Regions from separate parts of the Homo sapiens genome. Here regions 2 and 3 are each linked to region 1. The links come from fine-mapping of genetic effects on gene expression. Tissue or cell type: whole blood. Region 1 holds a variant in brackets; each other region holds the start of a gene. Each region is shown on its reference strand, or each on the opposite one.

Region 1 (4,241 bases):
GGAGACCATTTCTAACACAGACGTCAGAAATTAGAAGGGACTAGAGGGACTATTTGATAGGTAGTGAGTTGCTCATTGCTGGAGGTTTGCAACTTGTTGGGAGTTGGCAATATTATAGAGGAGATTTTAGAATCCTATAGATTGTTGGACTGGAGGATCTTTAAAGTCCTTTCCAACACTTCTGTGATTCTATGATATAAATAGAATGTTATGGGAAATTTCCCTAAGGAGCCATAAAATACTACATTTACATGTACCTATAGAAGAGGCTCACATTCTAAAAAGAATTCCCCAGGTTGATTCTGGTTTTCCTGAAGGAAGTGAGAAGGCAACCAAGAACAAATTGATATCAGGGGAGTGCACATGTCTTGCCGGATGCCTGCTTTCTTCCTCTTGGTGAGTATATACAATGCCCACAGGGCCCCTGCTTTGCAAAGATCACACAGAAAGATGGGTTCTCTTCTCCTAGAGGAAGAATTTTGGTTGAGTTAGCAAATATTTTGTTTTGCAATTGACTAAAGGTAAGCAGATCTTTTCTGAAATATTTGTTTCAGAGCTCAAATTTCAGTTTAGGTGGCTGTTTTCTGGTCTAGGAAGCAAAAGAAGGGTGACAATGGTTTAGTTACCATGCCCCAAAAGCTCATGTTCTTTTCCAAGTCTTAGGGGTTTCCACAGCACAGGGCAGAACTATTAGAAGGGAAGGAAAATGCTGCTGTCACATCACACTGTATATGAGGCAATGTACTTTTGAGATTTAGAACATGTGAAGAGTTGAAAAGGTTTCTGCATTTGGTATCAACTGACATTCTTTCAGGAGTAAAATAAAGCTTTTCAAAGTGTATGAAATAATACATAAAAATATAGAATTTTATTTATTTACTTTTATTTTTATTTTTTTAGACAGGTTCCCACTCTGCTGCCCAGGCTGGAGTGCAGTGGTGCGATCATGGTTCACTGCAGCCTCAAACTCCTGGGCTCAAGAGATCCTCCCACCTCAGCCTCCTAGGTAGCTGGGACTGCAGGTGCGCACCACCATACCTGCCTAATGTTTAACATTTTTTTTTTTTTTATCTTTTGTCGAGATGGGGTCTTGCTATGTTGTCCACGCTGGTCTCAACTCCTGATCGAAAGCAATCCTCTCACATCCACCTCCCAAAGTGCTGAGATTACACATGTGAGCTACCACACCCAGCCTATGTTTGTGTTTATAGCAAGATCTTCTACAGTACATATACTGTAAAATTATACTTCCTTAGTTCTCTAGTGCCTTCCTTTCTTCCCCTTTTGAATTATAAATAAGAGCATCTTCTCACTTCAACTTCTATTTCTGCATATTCTCCAATACCTTCCTGGGCTCCTGTGCCAACCCATGCCCTTTATATCTGGGCTCAGTGTTGGCGTTTCCTGATTTGAAATGCAAAATGGCTGAAAATGTTAGCAATTTAATTTTTCCATTATGACAAATATTAGGCATTCACCTTTATCCATGCCTACTTATTCTGGCAAGGCTAAGGATATTTGGCAAAGTGATTAGAAAACAGCAGTATCAAAGATAATTTCCAGTTGGGTGCGGTGGCTCACATCTGTAATCCCAGCACTTTGGGAGGGAGGCCCAGGCAGGAGGATTGCAACGTAGCAAGACTCCATCTCTTAAAAAAAAAAAATAGCAAGAACAAAAAAGAAAAAAAAAATTAGCCAGGCTTGGTGGCACGTGTCTGTAGTCTCATCTACTAGGGAGACTGAAGTTGGAGAATCACTTGAACTGGGAGGTTGAGGTTGCAGAGAACTATTATTGTGCCACTGCACTCCAACCTGCATAACAGAGCAAGATTCTATCTCAAAAACAAACAAACAAAACTAAAAAACCCAAAACAAACAACAACAACAAATATACATATAGAGAGAGATGACTTCCAACATTAAAATATATCTCCAGTAATTGATAGTTTTGAAGAAAATATTGTAATCTTTGGAATTCTTATTAATATAGAAACAATATTTCTGTCCTGATTATAGGAACTCCTTTCTTTTATTGTTTGGAGCACAGAGGGGCTGCTGAAATGGAGAGTCTCAAGACTGATACTGAAATGCCGTATCCTGAGGTAATAGTAGATGTGGGCAGAGTGATTTTTGGAGAAGAAAACAGGAAGAAGATGACCAACAGCTGTTTGAAAAGATCTGAGAATTCTAGAATTATCCGGGCTATATGTGCACTGTTAAATTCTGGAGGTGGTGTGATCAAAGCAGAGATTGATGATAAAACCTATAGTTACCAATGCCATGGGCTGGGACAGGATTTGGAAACTTCTTTTCAAAAGCTCCTTCCTTCAGGTTCAC[A/G]GAAATACCTTGACTACATGCAGCAGGGGCACAATCTCCTGATTTTTGTGAAGTCATGGAGCCCAGATGTTTTCAGCCTTCCACTAAGGATTTGCAGCTTGCGCTCCAATTTGTATCGGAGAGATGTGACTTCTGCTATCAACTTGAGTGCTAGCAGTGCCCTGGAGCTTCTCAGAGAGAAGGGGTTTAGAGCCCAAAGAGGAAGACCAAGGGTGAAGAAGTTGCATCCTCAGCAGGTTCTCAATAGATGCATTCAGGAAGAGGAAGATATGAGGATATTGGCCTCAGAATTTTTTAAAAAGGACAAACTCATGTATAAGGAGAAACTCAACTTTACTGAGTCAACACATGTTGAATTTAAAAGGTTCACCACCAAAAAAGTCATACCTCGGATTAAGGAAATGCTGCCTCATTATGTTTCTGCATTTGCCAACACTCAAGGGGGATATGTCCTCATTGGGGTGGATGATAAGAGCAAAGAAGTGGTTGGATGTAAGTGGGAAAAAGTGAATCCTGACTTACTAAAAAAAGAAATCGAAAACTGCATAGAAAAATTGCCTACATTCCACTTCTGCTGTGAGAAGCCAAAGGTAAATTTCACTACAAAAATCCTGAATGTGTACCAAAAAGATGTCCTGGATGGTTATGTCTGTGTGATTCAAGTGGAGCCCTTCTGTTGCGTGGTGTTTGCAGAGGCCCCAGATTCCTGGATCATGAAAGACAATTCTGTCACACGGCTGACAGCTGAGCAGTGGGTGGTCATGATGCTGGATACTCAGTCAGGTAAAGGGAAGTGAAGTCATTGTCCCCATCAGCAGGGAGGAACCCCTTTCTCTGCCTTTTGTGGGTATTTGATCACATATGTTAGTTAAAAAATAGAAATTTATTTTTCTTATAAGTGTTCTCCCATTACAGTGTTCCTTATCTAACATTTTTAGTTCCAAAGACTCAGAATATAAACTGAGGTCAAGAAATGTTTGGATTCTATGGCCTAAACAACTTTTTTTTCTTTAGACTCTGTCACCCAGGCTGGAGTGCAGTGGTGTGACCTCGGCTCACTGCAAACTCCACCTCCCAGGTGCAAGTGATTCTCGTGCTTCAGCCTCCCAAGTAGCTGGGATTACAGGCACACACCACCATGTCGGCTAATTTTTGTATTTTTAATAGAGATGGGGTTTTGCCATGTTGCCCAGGCTGGTCTTGAACTTCTAACCTCAAGTGATCAACTCACCTCCACCTCCCAAACTGCTGGGATTACAGGTGTGAGCCACCACTCCTGGCCAGCCTAAGCAACTTTTAAAGGAAAGTTACAGTATGCCATCAGCAATGAGTTAGGAAAGGTCTCCTTTTATTGTCTATAAACCTGTTGAAAAAATTGTGCAGGCTGATCATCCCAGTCAAAATTGGAATAGCCTCATTTTAGAGATGATATTCTAGAGAAACACTGTTTAAGAATAACTCTGAGGCTGGGCGCAGTCCTAGCACTTTGGGAGGCCAAGGTGGGCAGATTGCCTAAGCCCAGGAGTTTGAGACCAGCCTGGCCAAAATAGCGAAGCCCTATCTCTCCCCCAAATATAAAAATTAGCCAGGCGTGGTGGTGTATGCCTGTAGTCCCAGCTACATGGGAGGCTGAGGTGGGAGGATTGCTTGAGCCTGGGAGGTGGAGGTTGTAGTCAGCCAAGATCACTCCACTGCACTCCAGCCTAAGCAACAGAGCGAGACCCCGTCTCAAAAAAATAAATAAATAAAAATAAAAAAATAAAAATAAATGACTCCACTACTCCACTAATTCTTTCAAGCAAAACATTGTTGACAAATTTGAATTGTTTCAGTAACATTAGGAGCTAATAACCTTAAGCCACTGGGCTTAGGGCACCACCAAGTGGGGGAAAATGATGCAAAAG
Region 2 (4,241 bases), not on the chromosome of region 1:
GTTGATCAGAAAATTGAATTACTGAAAATTAACAATCAGACAAAAATTTTGTGACCTATTGTTTCGGATAATTACATGCATAGTTTGTGTAATTTTCCATTAAGCACACAAAGTATTTGGTGAAAGTACCACTAACCTCTATGGGAAAGCAGTTTGTCAAATGATTCACCCCATTTCACTGCCTCTTCAGGGGAGACTCTGTACAAGAAACAAAATGTTTTATAATGGAGTGTGCAGAAAGTCTGTTTATGAATCTGTTCTAACATATGCTATTTTACTGCTCTTTTCAATTATATTTCACAGTTTCTCCTTTGATTATAATATAATGAAAATTGCATTTACATTAGAAACTTTGAAAACATTGTTCAATTTTCTTTTGGAATTTGTCTGTTGAATAATGTGTTGAAATAACATTATTTTTTTTCTCATGGATATGTGAGTTTTATTTTTTAATTAAAAATTAATCCTTTTTTAGGTTAAAGGGCACAGATAACAAATATAAAGAAATCAGGTCAACTATCTGTTTAAATTCAGCAAGTAGAAAAAAACTAAACTCACAGTATCTTTCAGTTAAAAAAAAATTATACTGCAATTTCCTTGAAGCTGTAACCACACTAGGCTGCAAATTTTTTTTTTAAACGGATACAGGAAGTTTGACTAATAAAGTTTCAAAGGGATAAGAAATATAAGATATTTTAATAGAAAAAATATTCTAGAGATGTTGGTAATGTGGAGAATTGAATATATTTTCTCGGATCTTTTTTATTATACTCTAATTTGGAAGAATTTGTATGAAACTAGTATATAAGGTTTTTGCATTTTCTTTTTGAATTAAATAAATGCTAAGTATTAAAAGACATTATTTGTGCTTTACTTGCTATAATGCGTGTGTTTTTTCAAACTACTGAAGAAAGAGATGAATATCTCTCTGCTATGACAATATTGCATTGTGAAAACTCTTAAATTAATGAGCATTTTATCAGGTTATAAGGAGTAAAACATGTCATTTAAAACTGACAGGTATATAATTTTAAAAGAGCAGCTTTAAGTGTTCACGTGATTATTCAATTCAAGCGATTTAATTCAAGTGATTTAATTTTATGAAATATTTCTAGTCTCTTCAAATGAAATTTCTAACTTTCCTTATATTGCTGTGTAATTTTCAATAAATCAGAAATCCCTAACTGCATTTTTCTTAAATCTTTAATGATAGAATCAGCAAAATCTTCCTCAAAATACTGAAAATTTATTCACCTTGTTTCTTTGGCCAAGTGCCCAGATCTACTGGAGCGGGTGTCTTCATGAAACTCAGGTTTCTGCACAAGAAGACTTAGTCTATTTCTTTTTTCCTTAGCTCTGTAATAAAAAGGCCTTCATGTCAGGACAATTTAGATGACAGTTAAAATCTCTCCTGCTGACTACCAGAAAATTTTGTAGTTGGTAAAAACCCACGCCCACCCATACCCACACACTCATGAATCCCATTTAAATATTGTATTTGTGGAGGAATTAGGGTAACATACGAAAATGTTTCTCCTTTTGCTCACCGACAATCAAGTATTTGAGATTATATTTCAATAAAGATTGCACTAGTTCCTCTATGTGGCTAACATTATTACACTTTTTTTTTAATGAGAACACTTTAGATTTCAGTTTGTTGTTTAAACCTAAGAAATAAAAAGGTGTTTTTTTTTCCCAAATTATAGCAATACAAACAATATATTTTCCACCCAATAGTTCAAAAACAAGAGGTAATGAATCTTCAACCTCAATTATGCTTTTAAAAGTATAAGGCTGACTTAAAATTGTACAATTTTACCTGATTTTGGCTTCTTTGCTTGTTTCTTCTTTTCCTGAACCATGTATTAACTTGAAAAAAGTTTTTTCTTTTGATTCACACATATTTATTTGAGAAAAGAAAAGCAATGTTGTTTCCATCTTCTCTCTAAAATGAAGAGATGTCTAATTTATTACATCCTTCCCTAGTTCATTTATTAATACTATTCCATACATATACATAGTAGAATAAAAAGTTATCACAACTCTTACAGTAATGTTTACAAAAAAGAAGTCAAGAGCTGCGTTTCTTTCTGTCTCTGCAGAAATGCAGAACTGAGGAAATGAAGTACAATTTGGTCCTAAGTTGTTTAGGGAAATGATACCACAAATTTGCAAAATGACTCTTGGTCTCTAAGATAAAGACTAGTCTTACCACAGTGCAACTTCTCGTTCAAGTTTGCGCAACCAGAATGATGCTTTAATAGACTCAAATAACACTGTCATTTCCCACAGGAACTTTTCAAAAAGTTTTTAAATGTGTGGACTGTGTGTTAAAATGTGTTATGGCAAAGTATTATATCAAACATTAGGAGATATTTTCTCCAGTTCTTAAAAAAGTATTTTTCTTATTGTTATTACATGAGTTAAGTAAATCACATTTAACTGACATAAGATTATGTAATGTTAATTACATTGGCTTAACATATTGTAACAAAATAAGACAATAGATCAGAATTTTATGGTTAAAAAAAGATTGTAGAAAGCATTTAATTTAACAGTTTTGGGCTGGGCACAGTAACTCATGCCTGTAATCTGGAGGCTAAGGTGGGCAGATTACCTGAGCTCAGGAGTTCAAGACCAGCCTGGGCAACATGGTGAGACCCCATCTCTACTAAAAATACAAAAAATTACCCAGGCACGGTGGTGTGCACCTACAGTCCCAGCTACTCAGGAGGCAGAGCCAGGAGAATCCCTTGAACCTGGGAGTCGGAGGTTGCAGTGAGCTGAGATCATGCCGGCTACTTCACTTCAGCCTGGGCAACGGAGCAAGACTCTGTCTCAAATAAATAAATAAAGTTTTAAGCACATATCTATAGAATGATTTTAGACATTTTTGAAATTTTTATCAGTCTGTGATGAAATGGAAAAAAATATGAAAAGTTTTTTTTCTTAAAGCTTTATTTTAATTCCTTTGATATAAAGGACTTGCTATTTTGAATTTGCTCTCCTGACTCTTTTGTTGTTAAAATGTTCTTTATAATGTAAAAATGTTCTTTATAATGACATGGATTAAGTAGAGATGGTAGTTTTTATATTTTAATGCCTTTATTAAAAAAAATGTTGACAACTCCAATTGGTTTAGCCTCCACTTCTTTCACTGTTTTATAGAATACAAAAGTCTTACAAATGCAGTTCTAGTCCATAATTCAAATTTTATTGAAAAATAAACCAAAGTTCACAGGCATTAGGTAATTTAATCCTACAAAGTTTCAGAGACAGGCCAGTGGAAAATCTGGAATTATCAGAGCCTTTGATCACCTACTATGTGCTTTAGTCCTTCCAAGAATCTTTGATCTCCAGTAGTGAATGCTTTAATCTAAAATGGTATATATTGAAAGCTGAGTTATACAAACCTAAAAGAAAATTTTATTTTCAGTCTTTTTGAATTATTTTTTTACCAAGACAATTTATCAGGGATACCAGCTAAAAGCTCAAAACATTTATCTATATGAAATTAAAGACTTTCTAGTATATATTTATACATATACCCCCTGATTCCATGACTTGTACTTTGAACATATTTTAAATCTCTCACCTTGGCTGAGAATTGAAAAATATTATGTATGATGGCATTTTGCATTGAGCTTCTGCTGGAAATGGATACTGATAATGCAGATTATGCTTCCACCCTGCTGTCCCCTAGTAATGATTAGTATCCACTGTGTTTATATCAGTTTAATCCTATGAAGGTGAATGAGCACAAGAGAAAATCATAGGAGCATGGACATCATCCAGTCACTAGGACTATAACTTAACTGTTAACTCAGAGAAGTTAAAGACATAAAATCAATATATTATTTTTCATAAGATATGTTAAATTTATGTGTGAAGTGTGCTATACACAATGCTGATAGAACCGTGGAAAAAGAAATTGTGAAAATACGGGCACAAGTTGCCGGGCACGGTGGCTCATACCTGTAATCCCAGCACTTTGGGAGGCTGAGGCAGGTGGATCATGAGGTCAGAAGTTCAAGACCAGCCTGGCCAAGATGGTGAAACCCCATCTCTACTAAAAATACAAAAATTATCCAGGCGTGGAGGCAGGTGCCTGTAATCCCAGCTACTGGGGAGGCTGAGGCAGAGAATTGCTTCAACCCGGGAGTCAGAGGTTGCAGTGAGCCGAGATCATGCCACTGCACTCCAGCCTGGGCGACAGAGTAAGACTCCATCCCCCTCACAAA
Region 3 (4,241 bases), not on the chromosome of region 1:
CCAGGAGATAGACATGGTTGCAGTGATCTGAGATCGTGCCACTGCACTCCAGCCTGGGTTTCAAAGTAAGACCCTATCTCAAAAAAAAAAAGGCAGAGATATAAGTAAACTAGTTTGGGAAGCCGAGGCAGGCAGATCATGAGGTCAGGAGTTCCAGACCATCCTGGCCAACATGGTGAAACCCTGTCTCTACTAAAAATATACAAATTAGCTGGGCATGGTGGCGGGTGCCTGTAGTCCCAGCTACTCAGGAGGCTGAAGCAGGAGAATCGTTGGAACTTAGGAGGTGGATGTTGCAGTGAGCCGAGATCGCGCCACTGCACTCCAGCCTGGCGACAGAGAGAGACTCTGTCTCAAAAAAAAAAGAGAAAGAAAAAAAAAAAAAAGGCCAGGCACGATGGCTCATGCCTGTAATCTTTGGTACATCGAGGTGGGCGGATCACGTGAGGTCGGGAGTTTGAGACCAGCCTGACCAACATGAAGAAATCCCGTGTCTACTAAAAATACAAAGTTAGCCAGGCATGGTGGTGCATGCCTCTACTCCCAGCTACTTGGAAGGCTGAGGCAGGAGAATCGCTTGAACCTGGGAGGCAGCGGTTGCGGTGAGCTGAGATTGCGCCATTGCACTCCAGCTTGGGCAACAAGAGTGAAACTTCTTCTCAAAAAACAAAAACAAACAAACAAACAAAAAACCCAAGTAAACTAGTTATGAAGTGGACGTTCATCAACTTCATTGTGCCAAGACAGCTAAAGGGGGCACCTGGTCTTGCCTTGGGGAGGTTGGGAGGGCTTCCTGTAGGAGGTAACCTGGGAACTCCAACCTTAGAAGTGATCTCCAAAAAGCCAGTTACCACCTCCATGATAGCTACCTCCAAAAGCTGGTGTCTGACTCATCCATCCATCCATCCATCCATCCATCCATCCATCCATCCACCTACCCATTTATTGAGCTTCTATAGATGCCAGGCATGGTTCAAGGAGGTGCTGGGTACAAATCAGGTAAAAATCTCTGCCAGGATGAAGCAGAGTGAGGGATGGTCCCTCCAACCACAAGCAAAATAATGACAAGATAATTCTGGAAGGAGTAACTGCTAGGAAGGAAATAAAACTGAGTGAAGGAGGGAGAAGTGTCCCGGTTTCAAAACAAGATCCACAAAAACTTAGCTAATCAAGGATGCCACCTTCTTCCCGAGCCATGGGGACCTTATCACCCTCCAGCAGACAGTGCATAGAGGAGGAACTCCTCCCAGTGGCCCTGCTGGCTCAGTCGCCTGCGCAGCAGTAATCGAGCGCCTCCAGTATGCACCAGGCAACCTTCTAGACATTAAACTGTGTGGGGGATGGGAGGGAGGTTTCTGTATGCCTTTGGGCACGTCACTCCTCCTCAGGCCCTCAGGTTCACTTCTGTAACTAAGGCTTCAGGATGGGTCATTCAGCAACCCCAGAGCTGCCCTGCCCGTCAAGCTTGAACTCTTTAAGGAAATAACATTTAGAGTGGACTGTGCCCCCAGCAGCCCCCAAGGTGAGAGTGCATAGATGGGGGTGTTTATCCCCATTTCGCAGATGGTCAGGATGAAGCTCAGAGGAGAGGCAGGAGTCGCACAGGCTGCGCGATACTGACCCGTGTTGGGGTCCAGCCCAGGGTCCCCCGCCCCCGCCCCAGCCCCCGCCCCAGCCCCCGCCCCAGCCCCCGCCCCAGCCCCAGCAGCCGGGAGGCTTCGGTCCCTTTAAGAACGCCCCGCGGGGCCAAGCAGGAAGGGGGAGGTGCCAACGCCCGGGACGGACGTCTGCATGAGCCAACGGGTGCGGCAGTCGCGGCAGCGGCGGCCAATGGGCACGGCAGGGGCGGGGCCAAGCGGCCGAACCTGGTTCCCGAGGCGCGGCGGCCGCGGCTGGGGGCGGGGAGGGGGGCGCAGGACCCCAAGTGGGGGTCCCGGAGCCAGAGGCAAGTGTCCTGGGGTGCTGGGGGCGCCGTGCCGGCCGGGCCGCTGCCCTGGCCTAGGCTGGTCCGGGGGCTAGCGCGCCGGGGGCTGCGGCCGATGGGCGGGGCGAGGGGCCGCGGGGGTGGCGAGCCGGGGGGGCACGGGGGTCGGGGGTGCCCGAGGGGGCGCGGCCGGGCGGGGGTGGCCAGGGATGGGGGTCACTGGGGGCAAAGGGGATCCAGTGGGGGGGTCCCGATGGAGGCGTGCAGGGCCAGGGGCGCCCGAGGCGTGCGGGGGTCGGGTGCCCCAGACTGGTGGCGTCAGACAGGCGTGGGTCGTTGGGGGCCTGGGTCGCGGCTTGACTGAGGGCCCGGCCGGGGCTGTGGGGCGTCAGGAGAGCGTGGGGTGTTATGGGATCGGAAAGGGGGGGGCGTCTGGGGACACTGGAGTGTTTACGGCGAGACGGAGCGGCTGTGGGGGGAGCTGGCCCGTGCTGGGGGCGGTGGTGGTTGGGGTGGGGGGTGGGAGGGGAGGCCGAATTGTGCGGGCGCGGGGAATTATGGGGGTGGGGGCTGGGAGGGTCTCTCAAAGTGGGGCTCCGAGCCCGGGAGGAGCAGGCAGGTGAGGGTTAGGGAGGGGATGCGGCGGGCTGGTTTGATGGCTGTGCCACACTCTTCTGAGCTTGGGGCCTGGGGGACGGAGGGGTTGGTTATTGGTTCAGGAGGTCTGGGGCAAGGAAGAGGCTGTAGAATGTGGTGGGACCTCGACCACTCCTGGAAAGGAGGCTGCTTTGAGGGGGTGGGACCGAGGCCTGATGAGAGGAGGATGGTCTCCTGGGGAAGGATTTGGGCCAGGGTCCCTGATGTTGGGGTTGTGGGGGATAGTGTTAGATTCAGAGTGTGGAAGGAAAAAACGCTTGGGGTTTCTGGGTGATTACAGTTGGTGCTTTTGGGGAGGGTCTCCCCTTTGGAGAAGAGGCTGGAGGTGGGAGGCCCTGGTAAAAGATTCAATTTCCCCCAGTGGCCTTAGAGGCTCTAAAAATGGCTTCCCTAAGGCCTCGGAGGCTGTCCTCTCCACAAAAATCCCAGCACCCTTCGCTCAGCTTATAATCAGGCAAAGCCACAGGGCCTGAAGCCCCAGGTTCAAATCCTCCTTTGGCCTTTGGCTTTCTCTGTGACCTTGGGCAAATGCCTTTGCCCCTCTGGCCTGTTTCCTGTTCTGCAAAATGTTGAGGGGAATCTTCCCTACTTCCTGGAGTATTTGTAAACATTAAATAATAATTAGCTCTAATAATGGCTAACACTATTTGAGCCTGATGCCAAGGGCTTGATGCATGGGTTAATTTCTCCCAACAAGCTGGGGTTGTTGTTACACCCACTGTATAGATGAGGAAACTGAGGCCTGGAGCCCTTGAGTTACACAGAAAGTGATCGGCAGTGTGGGGAATCAGTACAGTGGAGACTTTGAGGGGCTGTGTAGGATTCTGACCCACATCTCTGCCCCCCACTTCCAGGGCCAATTCCTGTCCCCCCAGCAGCATGGCATCGTGTGCTGAACCCTCTGAGCCCTCTGCCCCACTGCCCGCCGGGGTCCCACCGCTCGAGGACTTCGAGGTACTGGATGGGGTTGAGGATGCAGAGGGTGAGGAGGAAGAGGAGGAGGAAGAGGAGGAAGAGGATGACCTGAGTGAGCTGCCACCGCTGGAGGACATGGGACAACCCCCGGCGGAGGAGGCTGAGCAGCCTGGGGCCCTGGCCCGAGAGTTCCTTGCTGCCATGGAGCCCGAGCCCGCCCCAGCCCCGGCCCCAGAAGAGTGGCTGGACATTCTGGGTAAGGAGCAAAGGTGGATCAGGGTGCCCTTGGCCCTGGCCCTCTCGTCCCCTGAGCCTCATTTCCCCATCTGTGCTGTGAGGGTTGGAAGTCACGTGGTCACCACCGTGATCACCAGCCAGAGGCAACTACTGGAGATGCTTCACATTGATGTACTCTATCCACTGACTCACACACATGCACAATGTGCTGTGTCCCCGTTTCCCAGATCTGCTAACAGTGGCTCAGAGAGGCTGAGTCACCTGCCCAGAGCCACACAGCCAGCACGCCAGGCGCTGGCAGCTCCTAACCCCATCAATGCATCTTTTTTTGGCATTTGTCTGACACATGCTTGGGCTCTGAAAAATGTGTCCTGAGTGCACGCCAGCCTGGGCAACACAGCGAGACCCCAACTTCCAAAACAAAAAATGTGTTCTGGGGTCAAGTGGATCAGAGGAATGTTATTTTGTTCAGCCTTCTGGTTGGTTCACAGTAGTGATAGTATTGTAA

Evidence for each region. PIP is the estimated chance that this variant, and not a neighbour inherited with it, causes the effect. A credible set is the group of variants that fine-mapping cannot tell apart.
Region 2: it holds the start of RGS18, and the variant in region 1 is the best candidate, but not a certain one, in a credible set for the expression of RGS18 in whole blood (TOPMed, PIP 0.73).
Region 3: it holds the start of FKBP8, and the variant in region 1 is fine-mapped to the expression of FKBP8 in whole blood (TOPMed, PIP above 0.99).

What each region holds. Positions count from the first base shown.
Region 1 is chr17:35,555,882-35,560,122 of GRCh38, reverse strand. It overlaps SLFN14 (schlafen family member 14), which reads left to right. Exons shown (of 6, transcript NM_001129820.2): 2 at 318-396; 3 at 2,017-3,120. The coding sequence starts at 2,061. Among named protein-coding and RNA genes, the nearest start is that of SLFN14, 2.8 kb to the left of the region's middle. The variant A/G (reference allele first, on the strand shown) is at 2,338.
Region 2 is chr1:192,156,335-192,160,575 of GRCh38, reverse strand. It overlaps RGS18 (regulator of G protein signaling 18), which reads right to left and starts at 2,114. Exons shown (of 5, transcript NM_130782.3): 1 at 1,820-2,114; 2 at 1,255-1,356; 3 at 137-198. The coding sequence starts at 1,938.
Region 3 is chr19:18,541,190-18,545,430 of GRCh38, reverse strand. FKBP8 (FKBP prolyl isomerase 8) reads left to right here and starts at 1,858. Exons shown (of 9, transcript NM_012181.5): 1 at 1,858-1,945; 2 at 3,436-3,752. The coding sequence starts at 3,461. RefSeq lists a silencer at 1,613-2,042 and an enhancer at 3,605-4,105.